2 separate regions of the Homo sapiens genome follow, and region 1 is linked to region 2. The links come from fine-mapping of genetic effects on gene expression. Tissue or cell type: aorta. Region 2 holds a variant in brackets; the other region holds the start of a gene. All regions are shown on one strand. Distances are between the middles of the regions.

Region 1 (2,604 bases), 120 kb before region 2:
CGGTGATGGGCACTTGTAATCCCAGCTACTCCGGAGGCTGAGGCAGGAGAATCGCTTGAACCCCGGGGTCAGAGGTTGCAGTGAGCCGAGATCACGCCACCGCACTCCAGCCTGGGCAACACAGTGAGACTTCGTCTTAATAAATAAATATAGATGGATAGATAGATAGATAGATAGATAGATAGATAGATAGATGATAGATAGATAAAATTCTAGTTCTTTGTTTTAAATAAAGTTTGTACCCACTAAATTGATACTGTGACCAATTAGTGGGGTACAACATACAGTTTGAAAACAGTGCTCTGGCCGGGGGCGGTGGCTCTCGCCTGTAATCCCAGCATTTTGGGAGGCCAAGGCGGGCGGATCACCTGAGGTCAGGAATTTGAGACCAGCCTGGCCAACACGGTGAAACCTCGTTTCTACTAAAAACACTAAAATTAGCCAGGCGTGGTGGTGCACACCTGTAATCCCAGCTACTCGGGAGACTGAGGCACGAGACTCTCTTGAACTCGGGAGGCGGAGGTTGCAGTGAGCCGAAATCGCGCCACTGCACTCCAACCTGGGTGACAGAGTGAGACTCCATCTCAAACAAACAAAACAAACCAACAAAACAAAAGAGAGAAAAACAGTGTTCTCAGCATTTTCTTTGCCTCAGGGCCATTGCGAATGCTACACCGTCTGGAAAGTTTTTCTTGTATCCTCTTCACCTGGATAGATTTTTTTTTTTTTCAGCCCTTCAGAAAGTACACCTAGATAAATCTTAATCATTTTTTTAAGGTATGAAATCTAAGGATGCCCCCTCTCTGGAGCTGCCTGCCTGTGTTTGAATCCTGAAGATCGTGATGCGTGAGTTAATCCGTGCTAAGAACTCGGAACAGTGAGTAGCAAATCGTTGCTTCTTATAGTGCAAGTTAGAAATGACACAACTGTTTGTGTAACTATTAATATGTGTCTCCTCACACCTCCCACACTCTAAACACAAGAAGCCACAGAATTTGGTTAATTTCTTTTCATGTTTTTGTTTGTTTGGTTTTGGGTTTTTTGTTTTGGACAGGCTCTCACTGTGTCGCCCAGGCTGGAGTGCAGTGGCACGATCTCCGCTCGCTGCAACCTCGCCTCCCGGGTTCAAACAATTCTCCTGCCTCAGCTTCCCAAGTAGCTGGGATTACAGGCGCCCACCACCACGCCCGGCTTTTTTTTTTTTTTTTTTTTTTTTTTTTTTTTTTTGGATTTTTTGGAGAGACGGGGGTTTCGCCATGTTAGCCAGGCTGGTCTCGAATTCCTGACCTCAGGTGATCTACCCGCCTCGGTCTCCCAAAGTGCTAGGATTACATGGTGTCCAGGCTGATTCTGTTCATCTTTATATTCCTAGCGTCTCACTTGGCCTGGCATGGAAGAGGCGCTCGGAATCAAAACGGAGAGAGGCTGGGGGTGGAGCCAGCTTCGGAAGTCACGGCGGAGGGGCGGGGGCGGGGCCGCGCCCACCAGACGAGCCATCGGTCACGCGGGGCCCAGCTGGACTGCCGCGGGGGATTCTGGGCCAAGATGGCAGCAATGAGGAAGGCGCTTCCGCGGCGACTGGTGGGCTTGGCGTCCCTCCGGGCTGTAAGTGCCCCGAGCCGCCGAGGCGGCGGCCCTGCAGGCACTCTGACTGTCAGGGTTGGGGGCTTGGCCCGTGGTGACTGCTCTCTTAGAGGCGAGGCCGGACAGCTCTCAGGCCAGAGTCGGGAGGGCGTTGGAGTCCTGGACCCTCCCTTTTCCCCTCAAATCCTTTGAAGGGGATGGGAAAACTGAGGTCCGGAGAGGTGGAGTGACTTGTCTGGGTCATGGAGACCTGGGACGCCATCCTAGGTGCCCTGATTCCCCGCCCAGGGCCCTTTCCGATGACCCTGGCCCCTTTCTCCCTCTAATTGAACTTCAGACCTCTCCAACTCTTCATTAGTGAAAATCAAGAACACGCTTCCATTTCCTTCGTCTCCATTTCCAACTGTTGTTGCTTTTAGAGATGCTTGGGGAACTATCCCAGCCTACCGAGCGGGACTTGCGTTGATTGGAGCCAAGCTGTGATTCCCTTGGAATTGCACTTTGATCCTGTTCGATCCTGATGTTTTCCCCTCTCCCATTCTCAGCGCAGAAAAAGTGTGGGAGACGTAGCTGTATGGAGCAGAAAAAATAAAAGCTGAAGCTAGGGTGTCCCAATAGTTCTGCCACTTTCTAGACTTAATGACATAGTTATTTACTTTCTCTAAACCTCAGCTCTTTCGTCTGTAAAACGGACAACATTCCCTTGGGGTTGTTTTGGAAATTAGAGAAAATGTAAGTAACACATCTGGCAGTGTTCTGGCTCCTAATAAGTGATCAGTCGGTGGTGGTATTTTTACCTTAGGGAGTTGAGAAGGAGTTATAACTGTATAGAGGGAAAAATACACTCCTGGCACTGGGTCCCTCTCAGAAAGCCACGTTAATATCTTTACTTGGCCATTCACCTGCACCACCTGCTCATGTGTAAAATGAAGATGGCAATTCCAACTTGGAAAGTTAAACGCAATAGTAGATATTAATAAGCTTTTAAGAAATATTTGGTGTAATGAGATGGCCCTCCAT
Region 2 (2,756 bases):
TTCTTTTGCTAGGGGCCAGAAACTTGAGTCATTCTCAACTTCACTTTCTCTCTTATCTTTCATCCAGTTGTCCATGGAAATCTTGCTGGTTTACCTTCAAGATGTATCTATCATCTGCCCATGTCTCACCACCTCCAATGCTGCCACGACGTCTGGACCAGCATGAATGCCTGGCCTCAACCTCCCGGGCTCAAGCCATCTTCCTGCCTCAGCCTCCCAAGCAGATAGGACTACAGTTGCACAAGAGCACTGAGCTGACAATACTTTCTGATAAGTCTTCCTGCTTCCACCCTTACCCCCCATATTCTGTTTTTAATATGCAGTTACAGTTTTAAAATGGAAGTCAGATCATGTGATGCCTCTGCCAACCTAGCAAGGAGTGATTCATTTCGCTCCCAGTAAAGGCCATAGTCTTTCTAACACCCTACACAGCCTGCACAGCGGCTGCCCATCATCTCTGACCCCCTCCTCCTCTTGCCCTCTCACACTGCCTGGCTGTAGTGGGCTCAGTGCTATAACGCACCTCTGCCTGAAGGCCTTTGCTCTAGTCTTCCATCTCTCCAAAAGCTCCTCCTCACAGATCCAAGTGCCCAACCCTTACCCACTTCAAATCTCATCTTCTCAGTGAGGCCTCCTCTGACCAGCCTTTCCTCACCCCCTCACCCCACTCTACTTTTTCTTTTCCCAACACACATACCATCCTATAACATTCTCTGTAATTTACTCGTGGATTGCTTATTGTCTGTCTCCCTCCATTAGAATGTAAGCTCCAAGGCAGGGATCTTTGTCTTTGTTCACTGATGTATCCTATGCCCCTTAAACAGTGCCCAGCACATGGTAGACGCTCAAAAAAAAGTTACTGGATAAGTGACTTTAGTGGACACACTTTTGTTTTGTTTTTGAGATGGAGTCTCGCGCTGTCACCCAGGCTGGAGTGCAGTGGTGCGATCTCGGCTCACTGCAAGCTCCGCCTCCCAGGTTCACACCATTCTCCTGCCTCAGCCTCCCGAGTAGCTGGGACTACAGGCGCCCGCCGCCACGCCCGGCTAATTTTTTTTTGTATTTTTAGTACAGACGGGGTTTCACCGTGTTAGCCAGGGTGGTCTCGATCTCCTGATCTGGTGATCTGCCCGCCTCGGCCTCCCAAAGTGCTGGGATTACAGGCATGAGCCAGCGCGCCCGGC[C/T]GTGGACACACTTTTAAAAAATTTTTCTTTTTGTTTTTTCTCTTTTTTTTTTGAGACAAAGGCTTGCTTGCTCTGTCTCCCAGGCTGGAGTGCAGTGGTGTGATCTTGGCTCACTGCAACCTCTGCCTCCCAGGTTCAAGCAATTCTCCTGCAGTAGTTGGGACTATAGGTACCCGCCACCATGCCTGGCTAATTTTTTTTTTTTTTGAGATGGAGTTTTCGCTCTTGTTGCCCAGGCTGGAGTGCAATGGCGCAATCTCAGCTCACCGCAACCTCCGCCTCCCGGGTTCAAGCGATTCTCCTGCCTCAGCCTCCCTAGTAGCTGGGATTACAGGCATGTGCCACCACGCTCGGCTAATTTTGTATTTTTTTTTAGTAGAGATGGAGTTTCTCCATGTTGGTCAGGCTGGTCTCGAACTCCCGACCTCAGATGATCCTCCCGTCTCGGCCTCCCAAAGTGCTGAGATTACAGGCATGAGCCACCATGCCCGGCCTCTGCCTGGCTAATTTTTGTGGTAGAAACAGGGTTTCACTGATGTTGCCCAAGCTGGTCTCCTGAGCTCAAGCAGTCCACCTGCCTCAGCCTCCCAAAGTGCTGGGATTACAGGCGTGAGCCACCGTGCCTGGCCTTTTTATTTTATTTTTTTTAAGACACAGGTGTCCCACTCTTACCCAGGATGAAGTGCAGTGGTGTGATCACAGCTCACTGCAGCCTTCAACTCCTGAGATCAAGCAATCCTCCTGCCTCAGCCTCCCAAGTAGCTGGGACCAAAGACATGCACCACTACACCTGGCTAATTTTTATTTTTATTTTTAATTTTTTGAGACAGAGTCTCACTCTGTCACCCAGGCTGGAGTGCAGTGGCGCAATCTTGGCTCACTGCAACCTCTGCCTCCCGGGTTCAAGTTATTCTCCTGCCCCAGCCTCCTGAGTAGCTGGGACTACAGGCGCCCACCACGCCTAGCTAATTTTTTTGTATTTTTAGTAGAGATGGGGTTTCACCATGTTCGCCAGGTTGGTCTTGATCTCTTGACCTTGTGATCTGCCTGCCTCGGCCTCCCAAAGTGCTGGGATTACAGGCGTGAGCCACCACGCCCGGCCTATTTTTAATTTTTGTTTGTTTGAAATGGAATCTCACTCTGTTACCCAGGCTGGAGTGCAATGGCACAATCTCGGCTCACTGCAACCTCTGCCTCCCGGGTTCAAGCGATTCTCCTGTCTCAGCCTCCCAAGCAGCTGGGATTACGGGCACCTGCCAACACCCCGCTAATTTTTGTATTTTCATTAGAGGCGGGGTTTCACCATATTTGTCAGGCTGGTCTCAAACTCCTGACCTCAGGTGACCCACCTGCCTCAGCCTTCCAAAGTGCTGGGATTACAGGCGTGAGCCACCTCACCCAGCCGGCTAATTTAGATAAAAAAATATGTAGCAATGGGGGGTCTTGCTATGTTGCCCAGGCTGGTCTCAAACTTCTGGCTTCATGCAATCCTTCCAAATGAGCCACAACACCCAGCCAGTCACATTTTTTAAACAGTTACATCTTTATTTTAGTATACTAGAAAGTAATACA

The links. PIP is the estimated chance that this variant, and not a neighbour inherited with it, causes the effect.
Region 1: it holds the start of HMGCL, and the variant in region 2 is fine-mapped to the expression of HMGCL in aorta (GTEx, PIP 0.99).

The regions. Positions count from the first base shown.
Region 1 is chr1:23,824,357-23,826,960 of GRCh38, reverse strand. It overlaps HMGCL (3-hydroxy-3-methylglutaryl-CoA lyase), which reads left to right and starts at 1,532. Exons shown (of 9, transcript NM_000191.3): 1 at 1,532-1,605. The coding sequence starts at 1,546. LOC105376861 (a long non-coding RNA gene) reads left to right here. Exons shown (of 3, transcript XR_947068.2): 2 at 778-877; 3 at 1,373-1,421. RefSeq lists an enhancer at 663-1,531.
Region 2 is chr1:23,705,573-23,708,328 of GRCh38, reverse strand. No RefSeq gene overlaps it. Among named protein-coding and RNA genes, the nearest start is that of RPL11, 15 kb to the right of the region's middle. The variant C/T (reference allele first, on the strand shown) is at 1,185.